Regions from separate parts of the Homo sapiens genome. Here region 2 is reported to be linked to region 1. Evidence: microRNA targets listed by miRTarBase, many of them from high-throughput screens and not tested one by one. Region 1 holds a microRNA gene; the other region holds the end of a gene's coding sequence.

What was found. The annotated mature microRNA hsa-miR-505-3p reads CGUCAACACUUGCUGGUUUCCU and lies in region 1 at 1,401-1,422, opposite strand. An mRNA with a match to its seed (bases 2 to 7 or 8) in the 3' UTR can be bound and repressed. Matches are read on the target gene's strand: a 7mer-m8 pairs with bases 2 to 8, a 7mer-A1 pairs with bases 2 to 7 and ends in A, and an 8mer does both.
Region 2: miRTarBase lists DIP2C as a target of hsa-miR-505-3p. The part of its 3' UTR that is shown has no 7-base or 8-base seed match.

Annotation. Positions count from the first base shown.
Region 1 is chrX:139,922,760-139,926,172 of GRCh38, forward strand. MIR505 (microRNA 505) reads right to left here and starts at 1,472; the gene lies at 1,389-1,472. All of the region lies in intron 1 of ATP11C (ATPase phospholipid transporting 11C (ATP11C blood group)), which reads right to left.
Region 2 is chr10:274,440-277,852 of GRCh38, forward strand. It overlaps DIP2C (disco interacting protein 2 homolog C), which reads right to left. Exons shown (of 37, transcript NM_014974.3): 37 at 1-3,138. The coding sequence ends at 2,886. Among named protein-coding and RNA genes, the nearest start is that of ZMYND11, 140 kb to the left of the region's middle.

The DNA.
Region 1 (3,413 bases):
CACTGAATCTATGTTATACTTTTTATTTGTTTTGTTTTGTTTTTTTGAGGCAGAGTCTCGCTCTATTACTCAGGCTGGAGTGCAGTGGTGCCATCTCTGCTCACTGCAACCTCCACCTCCCTGGCTCAAGCAGTTCTCCAGCCTCAGCCTCCCGAGTAGCTGGGATTACAGGTGCTCTCCATCACACCTGGCTAATTTTTGTTTTTAGTAGAGATGGGGTTTCACCATGTTGGCCAGCCTGGTTTTGAACTCCTGACCTCAAATGATCCACCTGCCTCAGCCTCCCAAAGTGCTGGGATTACAGGCGTGAGCCACTGAGCCCCACCTGTTATACTTTTTTTTATAACAGCTCAAACTCATTTGGGGTTGGCATGTATGTTCTCTAAATTGACTGGTTCCCATGCTTTAAGTACAACAATGACCCTGCACCATTGCTCAGGTAATTGCCTCCTCCTGTAATGAGACTGCCCATCCCTAAAATCTCAGAACCTTCAGCCCTTTGGGTCCCCAGAGGCCCAGTTGACAGGCTACTTCCTCCATAAAGCTCTCCCCAAGAAATGAAGCCAGAGAGCCAGTGCCTCCTTCTGAATGCCTACTGCACTTACTGTGTATGTCCTTCAAAAGGATGGCTCTGGTGACCTACTGGCCTTGTGTGGAGGATGGTCCTGTGTGCTGGTCTTCTCTCTCTTCTACCAAACTGCAGGCTACTGGTGAGCAGGGCTGTACCTTACACACCTCTACAGCACCAAATAGGGGATGAGTGTTCCAAGAAAGCTGTGATTCACATGAATGTTTTCAGAAAAGAAGCCAGAATAAATTGTACACTATACTATAGATCCCTTAATCCTTATTACTGCAAAATACATTAATTGTGAAGCTTAAAGAACGTCCCCACTGCTTACACAACAGGTGTAGCTTACATAATCTGCTCTACCCAGCTGTTACTTACTTGTGGCAATTCCCTCCTGGCTTCTACTCCCTGTCGATATGTGGGATTACTGCACCATCCAGTATGATTTCCTTATTCCTTGCTCCAATCATAACAAATTTGTTAATTTTCCTTTATAACAGTAAAAATGGCTGAAACTCCAAATAACCAGAGATATCCCTAGGGTTTTCCATGACTATAAAACTCAAAAGACAATCCAGGATATAAACCAATATTTGTAAATATTGCCATAAAATTCATTGCTCAGAATTTTTTTTTTCCTATATAGTCTTCTTTGACAAAATACTGCAGTATTCCCACCATTTGGAAATTGTGTTACCCAAAAGGTATAGAATGGGATGAAGTGATGATGCAAATGAGTATTAGGACTATGAGCAAATGAATGGGAGCAGTAACAAAAGTCCAAAAGTCAGGAAAAATGAAAATCCACGAACTTGGCGATGCTCCAGAGAGGAAACCAGCAAGTGTTGACGCTAAACTGGCAGAAACATCAATACTTCCTGGCTCCCCCACTGGGTGCATCAATTTACCACCGGCAGGCTGCTCTTCTGCTTCAAGTGACAAACAGTAAGTGCTTTCAATGACAGTATGAAAAGGAATGACCCATAATCTAGAAGCATGGCTATGGGCAGCAAAGAAAAGATGTGATTGCTGGGAGTCTGTCTCAGCTGTACTGCTGATTAGCTTAATGATCTTGGACAAGTCATTTCCTTTCACTGAAAAAATACCAGTGTTTCACAATATTTGCGTGATGGAAAGAGTTAACATAGCAGGCCTGACACTGCTATTCTTAGTAAGGCCTGTTTGCAAGGTTGGTCCTTGGCTGGTGTCTGGGGACTTGGATTTTGGGAGGGTTTCCATCACCCTGATAAGAGTGGCTCACTCTGCTTAAGCTGTGTAAACAATAGGGTTTACACTGAATACCTGCTTTCCTCCTTGGGGTCTGGAATTTTGCTGTGTACCAGGTGGAGGGTGCCTGTGTGACCAGCTCCCACTAAAAACCCTGGGTACTGAATCTCTAATAAGCTTCCCTAGTAGACATTTCACACAAGTTGTCAAAACTCATTTGCTAGAGGAATTAAGCATGACCTGTGTGATTTCAGTGAAAGAGGACTGGAAGCTTGCACATGGTTTCCTCCAGACTTGGCCCCAATGAGCCTTTTCCCGTTACTGACTTTGCTCTGTATCCTTTTGCTATAATAAATCACATCCGCAAGCGTTTCTATGTACTGAGTTCTGCCAGTGAATCAACAAACCTAGGCCGGTTTTGAGGACCTCTGTCACAATTGGTATAGTGTTGAATAGTCTACCAAACGTTTTTTTCAACAGTCTTGTGAAATAGGTATTATTATTCCCATTCTATCGATGAAGAAACTGAAGTTCAAAAAGGTGAACAGAGAGTGTGCCCAGAAAATAAATATTTCCGTGTTTACTATATTATATATTGCTGTTCTCAAATTTTAGTGAACCTAAGAACCACTTGGAATGCTTGTTAAAAACAGTTTCTTGGAGTCTGTCACCCAAGACTTGGATTCAGTAAGTTCAAGGCCCAGGAATCTGTATTTATAGTAAGCATACAGGATTATTATTATTTGAGATGGAGTTTTGCTCTTGTTGCCCAGGCTGGAGTGCAATGGCACGATCTCGGCTCAGTGCAACCTCTGCCTCCCAGGTTCAAGTGATTCTCCCGCCTCAGCCTCTCAAGTAGCTGGGATTACAGGCCTGTGCTACCACTCCTGGCTAATTTTGTAGCCCAGTCTGAAATGCATAAGCTTCTTGGTGGCTGCTTCCTAAACTGATCATTCTTCATCTGTTATTACTGACTCAGACTGTGTTACCAATTCAGCTCAAAACAATTAAACAAGTATTAATTGAACATCTACTGTTTACCTGATGCTGTGCTAACTGCAAGATCATTTTCAAGAACACTTCTGATTTTTCCAAGAATACCTTGGTAAAGAGAAAGGGACTAGGAAAACATTGCCACATTAATACTTTATGACAACATATAATAGAGACGTCTAAAAAACAAATGATGATATCTGCTTGAACAGCAATATCATCAACATCACCAATCCTCCCATATTCCATTAAATACATATGGCACAAGAAATCAATGATTTCTACTTCACAAATACAGGTTAACCTTCTAAATCTGGAAATCCACGGTCCATTATCATTTATAAATCACATCTTCTATTATCAAGAAGTCAGCCGACCCAGTAATCCGTCCATACACTGCAATAATTGAGGGGCTGTCTGCCAATGTGTGGGCATAGGGCATCCTGTGCCCATATCTGCAGTGCTGAGCACTCATTCATCATTAAGCTGCAGCAGTGTTAACATATGCTGCAGTTGTGCCAGTATGTTTTGTTTTACGATCACCGCTAATCTACCCTTATACCAGGCCAAGAAGGTAAATGTTAAGTGAAAGGAAATAAACTCGAGAGCCAGCACCTAATTC
Region 2 (3,413 bases), not on the chromosome of region 1:
CCAATTAAGAAACTGCTATTTTCAGAGCAACAAAAATAAAAGCTTTTATTTGTTCATTTGAATATAAAACAGGCGTTATCACAGATGTACAAAGCGTACTGGTGGTTTAACATACAAGAAGGTTGCTGTCCTTTGCACATAAAAATTTTGTTTGAAACTGTGGCTGGTTGAGTACATGAGTTTCTCTAACCAGTCACCACACTCTGAAATAACGCTGCTAACATTCAACTGATAAAAGGGACCATCTCCCTTGGGTAAAGTGTCAAGCAGGATTAAATATATATAATAAACAAGCACCATGAGGAATCTGCTCCTGTTTGATTAGGTCTGTGTTTATATGTTCACTGTGTACCCTCTTTTTGTGCAAGTTGATTACACGGTTTTGTCTGACTTCAAAAGCACAAGGTCACAAGACAAACATTTTTTACAATCTCATGAATGATTTATCTACAGTACAATTTTGAATACAGAATGACCCTTCTTTATTGCTGAAACTGGTGGTACTAAGTGTCTCCTTTCCTTTCTCTTGCACAACCAAATTTCAATCTCAGTCCACCAACTCTTTTGAGCCTAAACTCTAACTAATCAGAGTTGACAGGATGCAGAAGAGGCGGCTGCTAACTGCCCTCACAACTGCACTGCAGCGTCCACACTCCTTGAATGTAGAGTTGATCTGGTGACAGTTGAAATTATGTTTGAAGTGACATCTACATTTGTTTTGCTTCCTGACTTCAGCTGGACCTCAAAGCTGTCCTGCACACTGCAGCTAATGTTTCATAGTCAGTGCCTGGCCTGAAGCCCCAAACCTACCTCCCTTTCAACAAGGTGGGTGGGTGTAGGAAAATGTCTTTTTTCCCCCCAATGTGTGGTGGTTCCCCCCTTAGGAAGCAGAGACTAGGAATGTGCATCTGAAGCATGTGGAGAAATATTCACACACAGCAATGAGGTCAAACAATATTTCAAGAATCAAATGGTTTGTGGAGATGGAAGGATGCACCACATATGCAGACACATTTTTTTAAATGTGCCACTTTTTTTTTTTTTTTTTTTTTAACAACAATCAGCCTTGGATCTCAGAAGTCAAACAAAACTCTTTTAGCAAAAGGCTTACTGCTGACTGCATATAGCAAAGGCAGAGAAAGACGCTGCCCACAACATAATGAAAGATCATCTACATTTTGCCCAGCATCAATCTTAGTCATGCATATCTAGCACCGAGAGCCACTGCGGGGTCACACTGGGGCAGTTACAGAACACATCTTTCTCGGAGTGCAGATGCTCCTTCTTGGTTGGACACCGTGGGCCAATTCAATTTAGAAGTGCACAGGTGAGCTCTGAGAAGGTGTGGCCAGGAGCTGCCAGGGCAGAAACTGGGGCGCACTCGTCCACAGGCGGCAAACGACGCAGCTGGAGGACTTCTTGCTTCAGCCGGAGCTCTGGCATGAACCCCCGGGGAACTGTGCTCACTGAGCGAGGGAGCCCCAGAGGCTCACACAGAGCGGGCTGGGTCTTAAGACGAGGGGACGATCACCGATGTGAGTTCCGGACACTTTGTCCACTCCACATTGGCCATCAGAGGGGGAATCAATGCAACCCAGTGCGAATGACCACAGAATCGCATTCCTTTTCGTAGCAAGGACCAAAAAAAGATGACATTAACAAAAATGATGAAAAACATTGTGCAATGAATTCTTGCAGCTAAGAAAACAGTGCTATTTGCCAACCTAAAGCCCCTCAGTATCATCAGCACACGCTGGCATAAACACATTCACTGTTGTCCCACAGCAAAGAAAAAAATAGTGCACATTGAGCTTTGAATTCTTTTGCCATCCTTGAGATGGCAATAATTTCACTTGCTGGTCTCTGGTTCTAGAAGAAACTTTTAGACAGGGCTCCTGCGGTCTGCGACTGCTGGCAACAGCAGAGTGTATGTGAGTACGGGGGGCACACCATGCAAGTGACAAGTTCTGCATCTTAAACTTTAAAATCTCCTTTGTTCATTAGTGAATTTATATTTCATATATATATATTTGTTGTGATACTATCCACGCAAGATAATACAACACTTTTTTATATTAGCAAACATTACAAGACTTTAATATTCTTGAATGTTTTTCTCTTTTATAGTTCTAAAGAGATCAAAATAAATTAAACGTTTTGTACATAATTACATATTGAGGAAGTTAACTTATTTTATCTTTTTAGTTTAGTACAAAGATATTTGCAAGATAATTGCCGAAATACACCTTATTTATAATTTCTTCTCATTCTATACTAACTTCGAAGGCCGTATACCAGCCTTTGTTTCTTCAGCACATTTCTGACAAAGAAAGCTGCTATTATCTAATTGGAAGGTGCTATTTGGAAGGTTTTCTCGTACCTCAAACTTTCCTAAAAGGATGAGATCTAGCAATGGCTTAAATTAGTAACAGATCCATGTCATTAAGATTTCATGACACATTAAAACAGAGAAAACAATTCTTTGTCACACTACATAAATTGTTTAAAAGAACCCATCTGGAGGGCAGGATATTTTTTTAATTGCTATTTCGGCTTAACAAAATACCACATTTACGAAGAAAGCACTTATTATCCAATAATTAAAAAAGAAAGAAAAGAAAAGAAAGTTTTGAAATGGGCTTTTCCAACAAACTGAAGGCAGTAATCCAAAGTCCTTCTGAGCGAAATTCAGTGGTAAATTCACATTTCACCCCCATGCCAATCGTGGCTGCTGTGAGAAGTCCTCTTCCTCCTCCTCTTCCTCCTCCACTCTCACCACAAATGGCTGTATTCTGGTGAGTGTTGCCCTGTGTCTGCACGCTTCAGTGGACACGGAGAACAATGTCTACATCTCTAGAAAAGTCCATGGAAGCCAAGAGACGAGACTACATGTTGTAGGCCACATAGATGGGGTCTAGCTGGTCTGCCAAAAACCCGTCTCGCAGGTGCATGCGCTGCTTCTCCCCACGGGAGTTGATGGGGATGACGCCGATGTCCACCACGACCACCACTCCGACGATCAGGTAGTGCTCCTCCAGGACCACGTTGGTCACCAAGGGAACCAGGTCCAAGGCTTCTTGTTCCGACCCATCCAGCTCAACCACAACCACCAACAAATTTGTCCAGGTAAACACAGCACTAAAAGACAGAAAAGAAAGCCATCATTATATGTTTATTAATGCTTTATTTAATAGCCGTGGTTTCAAAGTTCCACTTGGCTCTCTCTGACCTGCCTGAGCACTGCCCGACAGTCTCCTCCGGCCTCTCCACGTCCTCCGTCTGCCGCCCACTAATCGTTCCCCATACAGACTTCCTGGCGACAGCACCTGTCGGTGTTTCCTACCAGCCTTCTCTCTCGGTGGCTTCTGCGACTGTTTCACCATCTTCCCGAGTTCCCATTTCTAGCACAGCAT